Homo sapiens: one gene and its partners. The protein of the gene in region 3 interacts with the protein of the main gene of each other region in a pairwise test. Each region holds a gene or a part of one and is shown on either strand. Other genes may lie near its edges.

Evidence for each region.
Region 1: the proteins of AARSD1 (region 3) and SPANXN3 interact in binary tests that used the Homo sapiens proteins (3 or more experiments, as listed by UniProt).
Region 2: the proteins of AARSD1 (region 3) and ZNF185 interact in binary tests that used the Homo sapiens proteins (3 or more experiments, as listed by UniProt).

What each region holds. Positions count from the first base shown.
Region 1 is NC_000023.11:143,510,733-143,514,479, reverse strand, and holds part of SPANXN3 (sperm protein associated with the nucleus on the X chromosome N3), read left to right. Parts: intron 1-3,747.
Region 2 is NC_000023.11:152,963,939-152,967,685, forward strand, and holds part of ZNF185 (zinc finger protein 185), read left to right. Parts: coding exon 1-11; intron 12-1,508; coding exon 1,509-1,589; intron 1,590-3,228; coding exon 3,229-3,300; intron 3,301-3,747. UniProt on the Homo sapiens protein: May be involved in the regulation of cellular proliferation and/or differentiation.
Region 3 is NC_000017.11:42,962,440-42,966,186, reverse strand, and holds the start of AARSD1 (alanyl-tRNA editing protein Aarsd1), read left to right. Parts: upstream 1-1,732; 5' UTR 1,733-1,746; coding exon 1,747-1,785; intron 1,786-1,949; coding exon 1,950-2,081; intron 2,082-3,747. Other genes in the region: PTGES3L-AARSD1 protein, read left to right, coding at 1,950-2,081. UniProt on the Homo sapiens protein: Functions in trans to edit the amino acid moiety from incorrectly charged tRNA(Ala).

The DNA of each region.
Region 1 (3,747 bases), on a different chromosome or scaffold from region 3:
TCCTGAGGGGAAGTTTGAGTGCAAAGGGAACATGCCTTAGTAATATATTTCAGATTGGCAGCCATGGCAGAAGAATGTATATAATTTTCTAAAAGCTGGAGTAGGGGCAGTAAGCAGCATGGAAATGGTTGTGCACATATGAAAGTACAGAAGGTTTTTTAAACTTGGACAAGACACTTTATCACTGAGATCAAACAATTTTTTCCTGAATGGCACCAGCCCGGGCAAGTGGGGTTCATTCCTTCTGGGTATATACAGGAAAAAATGAGCAATAACGATGGGGTTTTAAGGGCTGCCTGCCAGGCTGCCAAATTTGTTGAAAGGTTTCTCTCGGTTATGGCATCTTTAGACTTTCGGCACCCCTTGCAATGGATAATGGTGGCCTTTGGTGGTAGTTTATCCACCCCCAGCAGCTTATGTATAAGTTTGCCATTTCTTATGGGAGTTCCTTTTGTAGTTAGGAAACCCTGTTCCTGCCAGATGAAGGCATGAGACTGTAGGACATGGTATGCATATTTGGAATGGGTGTAAATGTTGACCCTCTTTCCCTTTGCTAGGGTGAGGGCCCTGGTTAGGGCAACTAGCTTAGGCTGTTGAGAGGTAGCATGGGGTGGCAGAGCATTGGATTCTAGGAGTTTATTTTCAGCAATGATGGAATAGCCAGCTGCTGGACATGGCTCCCTAAAAGAGCTTCCATTAACTAACCGTGTATGTGTTCCCTGCAAAGGGGCATGTGAAATGTGTTGGAAGGAGGAGGAGAGGGAGTCTAAGAGGTCCAGACAGGAGTGAGAGAGCCTAGAATCGGAAGTGTTTACAGGGAGGAGGGTGGCTGGGTTGAGAGTTTTATATCTCTGGAAGGGGATTAGAGGGCTACCTAGGAATAAGGCATGTACCTGTTATAAGCAGGATGGTAGGAGGGATAGAAGGGATTGATGGTTTATGAGGTCCTGTAGGTAATGGGAAGATGCAATAGTAATGTGTTGGTAAAGAGGGAGTTTCCGTGCCTCTAAGGCCAGCGATGTGGCCACAGCCAAGATTTTTAGTCAGAGTGACCAGCCTTGGTCACACAAAACAACAGAGTCCAGTTGTTTTGAGAGAAGTGCAGTGGCTTGTGTGGCGTTGCCGTATGTTTGGCAGAGTAGTCCAAGGGCAAGGCCCTGGTCAGAATGTACATACAAAGTAACGGGCTTGGTGAGGTTGGGCAGTCCCTGTGCCAGGGCCATTAAAAGGGCATTTTTAAGTTTTTAAGTGGGAGTTGATGGGGCAAGCTGGGTTTAGGGGTTTTAGGATGGGCCCATGTGAGGCCCTGTTTAGTGGCTTGGCCAGCAAGTCAAAATTGGGAACTGACAGCCAGAAGTAACCCACAAGGCCCGAGAAGGAGAGAAGGTACTTTTTTGTGTGAGGAAAGGGCATGTCCCAAATTAGCTCCTTTCATTGGGTTGGGATGGCTCGAGAATTAGGGGTTAGGACAAACCCAAGGTAAGTAACTTTGGTTTGGGCTACCTGAAATATTGTGGGCTAGGCCCAAACTTTGGTTTGGGCTACCTGAGATTTCCTCTATTATGGAGGAAGTTTAAAACCTAAGTGGTGTGTTGGATGGACAGGTTAAGGAAGGGGCTACAGAGAAGGAGTTTGACATGTTGCAGGAGGGTGCTAGCAGCAAGGGAAAGTTCACCTAGGTCCTTGATGAGGGCAAGTCTGAATAGGTGGGGGCTATCCTGGAACCCCTGTAAGAGTACAGTCCACTCTAGTTGGGTGCACATGTGAGTATTAGGACTTGACCAAGTTAAAGCAAAAAGACTTCTGTAAGCCGGATTTAAGGGAATGGTGAAATAGGCATCTTTCAGTTCCAATACAGAGGAGTGTGTAGTAGATTTAGGAATATGGGAGAGTAGAGCATATTGGTTGAGGACCACTAGATGTATTGGTACCACTGCCTGGTCAACAACTTGGAGATCCTGGACAAAGGGGTAAGTCCCGTCTGTCTTTTGGAAAGCCAGAATAGGGGTGTTCTGGGGAGAGTTAACAGGCTTGAGAATATGAGCTTGTTAAAGTTTACAAATAATAGGTTTGAGGCCCCTAAGCACGGCTGGATTAAGGGGATATTGAGACTGAAAAAAGAAAATGGAGGAGTTTTGAAAGGTTATTTTAACTGGGATGTGATGTGTGGCTATTGTGGGTTTAGAAACATTCCAAGCTTTAGAATTAACAGAAGGTAACAGGGTGGATAATGAGGATGAGTAGGGGGAGAGGGAAGCGTTTGGGTGTCGGAGTAAAATAAAAGGGGTAGAATTGTAGGAGCCGCATTGCATGGAGGCCTGGAATTTACTTAATATGTCCCACCCCAAGATAGGGGTAGGGGACTGAGGGATAACCAGGAAACAGTGGGTGAAGGGGGCTGTTGAATAGGTTGCATAATAAAGGACGAGTCTGTGCCTAGAGGGGATTTTATTGATTCTCACAATAGAGATCGAAGAACAGAAAAAGGGTCTAGAATATTCTGGTAAAACCGAGTAACTAGTTGTCGTATTGAGTATCCAATAGGAAAGACATGGACTTACTAGAGACTGACAGAATTACCCTGGGTTCCGAGGTGGTGATGGCAGTAGGGGTGGTGGACTCTAGGCCCCACCTGTCTTCAGGTACAGGTGGTGAAGCTAGATGAAGAGTTTCACTGAGCACAGTCTGACTTCCAGTGTTGCTTGATATCACAGATGGGGCAAGGCTTCCAGAGTGTCACGGGATTAGGCCAGGCTTTTGCTCAGTGTCCCTGTTGGATGCACTTATAACAGGCTCCTGGAGTTGACTGTTGCCAAGTTGAGGAATTCTGTATGCCTTGGGAACCCTGTTGAGTGGCAGCTATCAGCATTTGATATTTAGCCTGGCCCTTTTTTAGGTTTGGGTTTTTTAGTTCTTCCTCTCTAATCTTATAGACCTTAAAGGCCACTTTGATTAAGTCTCTTTGGAGGTTTGAGGGCCATCCTCCACTTTTTAAAGTTTTTTTTCAAATGTCTGGGGCTGACTGGGAGATAAAGTGTAAATGGAGGTAGATTTTGCCCTTAATGGTATTAGGGCTTAAGGTGGCATATTTAGTTGTGACCTTTGAAAAGGCGGGAGAGGAAAAGAGCAGGGGCGACTTTATTTATGCCAGCTAGAAGGCATGATATCATATGGCCTGGTTTCTGCCTGTCTACAGAAGTTGCCTGATAATTCCGATTGAGGTCAGTTCTGGGGACAGCTAGGGTCCCTACTGGGTTATGAGCAGCATCTTGTTGGTGGAGGGTGTTCTCATGGACCTGGGCACCCGTAAATATGTGTTCCCTGTCCTCCAGGGTGAGGGTAGAGGAGAGGATGACATATATGTCATGCCAGGTAAGGTCATAAGATTTAGGGAAGTACAGACATTCCTTGAGGAAGGAGGTAGGATCCATTGAAAAGGAGCAAAGTCTCTTTTCAGTATGGGAGAAGTCAGCTAGGGAACTTGAATTCAGATTATGCCTTCAGTCCTTGCAACCTCCTGCAAGGGAAAGACTTTGGAAGGCCTTTGGGCATGTGTCTGGTTTTCGGCAAAAGAGCGTTGGGCGTGAGACCTGGTTTGAGGTGGAGAAGGAAGGGGGATGGAGGGTGACAGTAAGGGGGTGGAGGAGCCGGATCCGAAGGAGAAGGTGGAGGGAATGGGAGAGGGCAGGAGCCAGACGAAGGGGTTTGTTGGCCAGGTTGAAATTCAGAGGAGGAAGGCTTGTCCCG
Region 2 (3,747 bases), on a different chromosome or scaffold from region 3:
AGCTCTACCACGTAAGAAGGGCTATCTAGCAACCTGGGAGATGTTCCTCCGCCACTTCCTCCTTGGCGGTAAAGGACTTGGCTTTTGTTCCATGTTGCTTCCCATTTAGTGCCTTCCCCAGTTTCTAGCAGGCCATTAGCCAAGGGGCCACACAGGACAGTGTTAGTCCCCTAATATAAACTCCCATCTACCGGGCCTAGACATTCCCACACCTCCTTTTTCCTATCTCTGTAAGAGGCTGCAGTGGTACTTCCTAGTGCACTAGTGGATGTGGCTCTGCCATTCATGGGTCCATGCCTGGGAAGCCAGCTCCAGTCCGTGAAGGCCGGGCCTGTGAGGGCATTCCTGTGTTACTGTAAAGGAATACCTGAGGCTGGGACATTTATAAAGGAAAGAGGTTTAATTGGCTCACAGTTTGGCAGGCTGCACAAGCATGGCACCAGCAGCTGCTTGGCTTCTGGCAAAGGCCTCGGGAAGCTTATAATCATGGTGGAAGCCGAAGTGGGAGCAGGACCATCACATGGCACGAGCAGGAACAAGAGTGAGGAAGGGGAGGGCCCGGACTTTGAAACAACCAGATCTTGTGTGAACTAACTGAATGAGAACTCACTTTTCACTAAGGGGATGGTGCTAGCTGTTCATGAGGGATCCCCCCATGATCCCGTCACCTCCCTCCAAGCCCCACCTCCAACACTGGGAATCACATTTCAACATGAGGTTTGTCTGTCTCTGTCACATGCCCACTGCTTCACCTGCATTCCTGGCCACCTGTCAGGGTGCAGGAAGGGATGTCACTGCAGGAAGGCTGCTCAGTGAGGTGTGTGTGTTGGGGGCGGGAGGGGGGCATATCCAAGGGGGCCTCTGCAGACATCAGGTCAGCAGGCTGGAGTGTGCAGCATGGAAATGGGGGAAAATTTGGGGCCATCCTGAGCCCAGCATGATGCAGACCTTGTTTCCAGTCCTGCAGAGGCCAGTCCAGGATGAGGCAACCTCTAGGCCTCTGGACTCTAGGAGTGAGAATGGAGAGGTTAGATGTGAGGTGGAGATTGCACAGTAGCTGAGTACCTTCTGGGAAGTGCTGAGTGGTAAAGACTGACAGTGTAGGATTAAGGCTTGGAGGATATCTTGGTTGTGGGTAGAGGGGAAAGACGACGCAGCCCTAAAGTAGGGGTGGAAAGCCCACAGGACTGAAGTGTAGAAGTATAGAAGCCTGGGGAGAAGATGGGGTCACCGAGGTCTGCATGGAGGAGGACAGCACATTGTCATTGGTTGCAGGAAGCCCCTTTCTGGGGCCCTCAGTCCAAACACAACAAGAGACGCTCATGGCCTGGGATTGTAGTCTGAGTCCACAGCAGTGCCAGTGCCTTTATCCTGGGCCTTCCCATGAGCTCTTTCACTTCCTTCAAACCAGGCTGGGTCTCCCCAGCCCTGAACCACTCCTGTGGGCCAGGCCTGGTTCCCTGGAATCTTCTGGTGTACCTCTGATTTCTTCTGTGCTCCTTCTACAGCAAAGGGATTCTCTTCGTGAAGGAGTACGTGAATGCTAGTGAAGTGTCTTCTGGGAAGCCAGTATCTGCACGCTATAGCAAGTAAGAGCGGGTCCCAAACCCTTCCATGTCGGCCTTCTCCTGCCGGCTCCCATATTCTCATCCCTGCATTTCCAGTTCCTTGTCCAGGACTTGGCTCAGAGTAGCTTCGGGGTAATTGTCGAGTGGATGAGTGATGTAGTTGCCCTCTGATGGGATTGATGCATTTTCTACTGAACTGGGCACCTTTGGGTTCTCCCTTCCGGTGAATTCATCCTGCACACCATTTTCACTGCCATTCTGTTCTGCTTGTCTTTGTTATTTTATTTTGTAAAATGCTGAGAACACCCCTCTTGACAGAGCTGGCAGAGCCCTAGGGACCAACTAGCTCATCCTATTTCTTTTCAGATCACAGAGCTCTTCTCTTCTGCCCTCATGTTCTTTTCTGTCATGCCAGGCTGCCTCATTTGAACACACATGTGACTGCAGTTCCTGATACATGTGTGGCTTTGCTTTTTAATTTTAATTAATTAGTTAATTAATTTTAATTAATTTTTTTTTGAGATGGAGTCTTGCTCTGTTGCCCAGGCTGGAGTGCAGTGGCGCCATCTCAGCTCACCACAACCTCTGCCTCCTGGGTTCAGGCAATTCTCCTGCCTTAGCCTCCCTAGTAGCTGGGATTACAGGCGCCCACCACCATGCCCAGCTAGTTTTTGTATTTTAGTAGAGATGAAGTTTCACCATGTTGGCCAGGCTGGTCTCGAATTCCTGACCTCAAGCAATCCACCTGCCTCGGCCTCCCCTTTTCATTGATCATCTCTTCATTTTCTTGCTTTGTGATGCCATGTGGAGGGGTACTTCCATGTCACCTCGGTGTATTGCTACCTACCACACTGAGGTGAGGTCCCTTAGAATGTTTCTTATGACATGTCATCTCACTGGAGGATTTTAGCAACAGAGAGGAGCATCCTGGCCTTATTTCAGGATTGGGCCTCTGGGGCTTCTGGACTGGCTTTTATTGGTGCTGTGGAATGATGAGCATGGCTGTGGGGGTCAAGTTCAAGCCCCAGCTCAGGCCCCCCTGTTAGGATCACTTCGGACAAGATGTTCAACCTCTCTGAGCTTTGCTTTCACATCTGTAGGCCCTTAGGGTGGTTTTTCTCAACAGCTTATTGAGTTATAATTCACCCTTTAAAGTGTACAGTCCCGAGGTTTTGGTACATTCACAGAGTTATGCAAACATCATTATCCAATTCTGGAACACCTTTGTCTCCCCAAAAAGAAACTCCAAACCCGTCTGCACCCCCTAATTCTACCCCATAACTCAAGCACAGGTATTATACCAGAATGATCCCTTCTTTCTTCTCATTCCCAGTATCTGATTTCTGCTGAGTGGGCTCCTGGTGACTGTCACATTATATCATAGGTGGGGAGGAAAGCTCTGCTGTTTTCCCACTGGTCAGTGGGGTCCCCTTGGCATATACAACCTCAGGAATCCTAGCCACCCAGCCCCGATCATCTCCCTCATTGTGAAAGGTCTCCTTTGCCCCCCCATAGAAGGGCCCTGTGGCACCAAGTCATGAATGACGACTGGCATCGTAGTTATGTCTCAGCTTGTGGCCAAAGGTTAATTAGAAAATTAACTATGATAGTGATTTGGCTCTCATCTCTGCCCTCCTCTCCCCTATCAAACTCCCTGCAGCGTCAGCAGCATTGAGGACTCATTCGCCATGGAGAAGAAGCCTCCATGTGGCAGCACTCCATACTCTGAGAGGTATGTTGACTTTCTTAGCACGGAGCTTGCACTTCTACAGAGGAGAATCAGGGAAGGGAGAGTTCCTGCTGAGTCTGTTTGCTTTTGTCTTCTGCTTTGCAGCCTCCAATCCATTTGCAGAAAGGTGAAGGACACTACCGTAGGGTGGTGCTTCCCTTGTTGGGATATCACACTTGTGACAACTAAAGCCTTTGAATTGAGCTAAGACTAGAGGGTAGATACCAGCGGTGACTGAGAAGGGAAGTGGTGGCATCTGACAACCCAGAGGACTCGTGTCAGCAGGAGGGGCCCTTCAGATTAGAACCTAATCAATCACTTCATTAACTTGCAAATCTAACCAGAAGTAAAAATAAAATGACTACAAAAGAGAGGAGTGGGCAGAGAAGGAAGAAAAATGGGCTGCTGGCATCAAGAAGCCAGAAAGACACACAAAGCCAAGAATGCCCA
Region 3 (3,747 bases):
AGGAGTAGATAAAATACATTTAAACATTTTGATAGCTGTTACCAAGTTGCTCTTTGATGAAATTGTACCAATTCTCACTCCTACGAACAATGAGAGTGTTCCATTCTCTAAATCGTTTCAGATATTTGACAAGATAAAAATTAGCACCTGGTTTAATTTGCTTTTTTTTTTTTTTTTTTTTTTTTTTTTTTTGAGACGAAGTCTCGCTTTGTCAGCCAGGCTGGAGTGCAGTATCGCGATCTCAGTTCACGGCAACCTCCGCCTGCCAGGTTCAAGCGATTCTCCTGCTTCAGCCTCCTTAGAAGCTGGGATGTAATCCCAGCCTGTAGGTGCCCGCCACCACACCGAGCTAATTTTTGTATTTTTAGTAGACACAGGGTTTTGCCATGTTGGCCAGGCTGGTATCGAACTTCTGGCCTCAGCTGATCCAGGCACCTCGGCCTCCCAAACTGCTGGGATTACAGATGTGAGCCACTGTGTCTGGCCCAAACTATTTTAATGTAATGTAATGTAATTTTCTTGAGACGTAGTCTCGCTGGGTTACCCAGGCTGGAGTGCAGTGGTACGATTTCGGCTCACTGCAACCTCCTCCTCTCGGGTTAAAGTGATTCTCCTGCCTCAGCCTCCCGTGTAGCTGGGATTATATAGGCGTGTGCCACCACGCCTGGCTAATGTTTTTGTGTTTTTAGTAGAAACAGGGTTTCACCATGTTGGCCACGCTGGCCAAATTGTTCTTCTTTTTTTTTTTTTTTTTTTTTTTTGAGACGGAGTCTCGCTCTGTCGCCCAGGCTGGAGTGCAATGGTGCGATCTCGGCTCACTGCAAGCTCCGCCTCCCAGGTTCACGCCATTCTCCTGCCTCAGCCTCCGGAGTAGCTGGGACTACAGGCGTCCGCCACCACGCCCGGCTAATTTTTTGTATTTTTAGTAGAGACGGGATTTCACCGCGTTAGTCAGGATGGTCTCGATATCCTGACCTCGTGATCCGCCCGCCTCGGCCTCCCAAAGTGCTGGGATTACAGGCGTGAGTCACCGCGCTCGGCCTTTTTTTTTTTTTTTTTTTTTTTTTTTAATTGAGACGGAGTCTCGCTCTGTCGCCCAGGCTGGAGTGCAGTGGTGCAATCTCTGCTCACTGCAACCCCGCCTCCCGGGTTCCAGCGATTCTCCTGCCTCAGCCTCCCGGGTAGCTGGGATTACAGGCGCCCGCCACCACGCCCGGCTAATTTTTGTATTTTTAGTAGAGACGGAGTTTCGCTATGTTGGCCAGGCTGGTCTCGAACTCCTGGCCTGAGGTGATCCACCCGCCTCGACCTCCCAAAATGCTGGGATTACAGGCGTGAGCCACCTCCCCCAGCTCCTTGCTTTCTATTTCTACTGGGCAGTGCTGCTCAGTAACCATGCCAGTCCCGTCCCCGCCTCTATGCGCTGGGATTCCGCAGCCAGAATACTTACATCCCTGGGGCCCCAAGGGGCTCACTAAACCACGTGCCTTGTCCAGGTCGCGTTTTTTTGTTTTTGTTTGTTTGTTTTTTTCCTCCTGGTCTTGTCCTTTGTAAAGCCTTAGAACAGTCGTTAAACAACCCAGCAAATATGCAATTCGCGTTTTCAGTAAATTTATCCAAACCGCATTCCATTCCTTACCCTCCTGCTTCTGCGCAGACAAGCGCCCTTGATGACGTTTGTCCCACGTCGCTCTCCGTTCGCTCCCAGGCTTCTCTGCGCGTGCGCCTCCTCACACGCCTGCAGGTATGGCGTTCTGGTGTCAGCGTGACAGTTATGCCCGAGAGGTACGGCGTCACGGCGAGGCACTTGAGACTGCCGGGCCGGCAAGGCGGTTTGGGGAAGAGGGCGCCACGTGTAGGGAGTGCCAACATGGCATTCTGTCCTGGTGTGGAGAGGGCTAGGGCTAGGGCTGGGGTCGGGGCTTATTCTCTCATTCCTCTCTGTTCAGTTCACCACCACCGTGGTCTCCTGCTGTCCCGCGGAGCTGCAGACTGAAGGGAGCAACGGCAAGAAAGAAGTGCTGAGCGGTTTCCAAGTGGTGCTGGAAGACACAGTGCTTTTCCCTGAGGGCGGGGGACAGGTACCAAAACGATCTCTTCCCAGGAAGCCCCCAGTTTCTTTGTGCTCAGGCCGAAATGCTCTCCTGCCCCTTTTTTCTCAGCCATAATGAATTCAGATGAGCTTTAGTTTAATTCATTTTGTTATTCATTTAATGAGTATTTATCAGCAATTGCTTATCTAGACATAACATATGCTAGATATTATTCCAGGCTGTAAGGATAACCGGTGAACAACACAGTGCCTTTATATACGTGGAATGTTTATTGAAGACAACTGTGTGTGCTAGGTATAATAAGTAATAAACAAAAACCAAGTAAAGGGAAAGAGAGTGATGGGATGCTTGTCTAGATGAAGGGTAAGTTATTTCAGTAGAGACCTAAACGAAGTGAGGGGGTGAGTCTTTGCAATTATCTAGTGGTGCTGGGGGGCAGAGGGAGTATTCAGGCAGGTAGAATAGCAGGTGCAAAGGCCCCAAGGAAGGAATTAGCTTCGGGTTTTAGGGACTGAAAAAGATGTTCCTGAAGGAGTTCAGGTGAGATAGACGGGTTACAGTAGTACAGCAGAGAGCATATTTATCAGTGCTGTGATGAGGACTAGGTACAACATGAGCGCAAGTGAGGTACATTGTGAAGATGGAAGAGGAGGATAATAACACCAAAGGTGGGCATTATGAGAAAGGCTTTTCTTTCTTTTCTTTTCTTTCTTTCTTTCTTTTTTTTTTTGAGACAGAATCTCTCGCTGTCATCAGGCTGAAGTGCAGTGGCATGATCTCAGCTCTGCAACCTCCGCCTCCTGGGTTCAAGTGATTCTCCTGTCTCAGCCTCCCAAGTAGCCTGACCAACATGATGAAACCTTGTCTCTACTAAAAATATAAAAATTAACCAGGCATACTGGCAGGCCCCTGTAGTCCCAGCTACTCGGGAGGCTGAGGCATGAGAATCACTTGAACCGGGAGGCTGAAGTTGCAGTGAGCCAAGATTGTGCCACTGCACTTCAGCGTGGGGGACAGAACAAGACTCCGTCTCAAAAGAAAAAAAAAAGGTGTATTAAGGTGTGTGGGCAGCGAACCATGCAGGTTATTTTCTTTCTTTTTTATTTTTAAGAGACAGGATCTTGCTATGTCACCCAGGCTGGAGTGCAGTGGCCTGATCTAGCTCACTGCAGCCTCGAACTCCCAGGCTCAAGCAATCCTCCTGTTTTAGCCTCTCCAGTAGTGGGGACTACAGGCGCACAACCAACATGCTTGGCTGCTTTTTTGTAGAGATGAGGTCTCACTTTATTGCCCAGGCTGATCTTGAGCTCCTGGCCTCAAACAGTCCTCCCACCTTGGCCTCCCAAAGGCTGGGCCTACAGGTGTGAGCCACTGCCCTGGCCTCCACTCAGGTTCTTAAGCAAATAAGTGACATGAGAGAACATGTTCAGTAGACTTGGTATTGAGAGAGTTCCAATTTCATATCAGTCATTATTATGGTGATTTTCCCAGTATGAAGATTTCCCTGATCTGCTGAAGGAAAACCTGTGACCTCAAGTATCCATAGAAGGTCTCATTTTAGACAGCATTTCTTTCAGGAAGTCTTTTTTTGATTCCCCAAGACTGTTAGGTCTCTTTCCTTTGAGGTTCTCTAGCGTCATATACTTTTTCATATTATGGCATGTTATAGGTCATATTGCAATTGTCTGTTTTC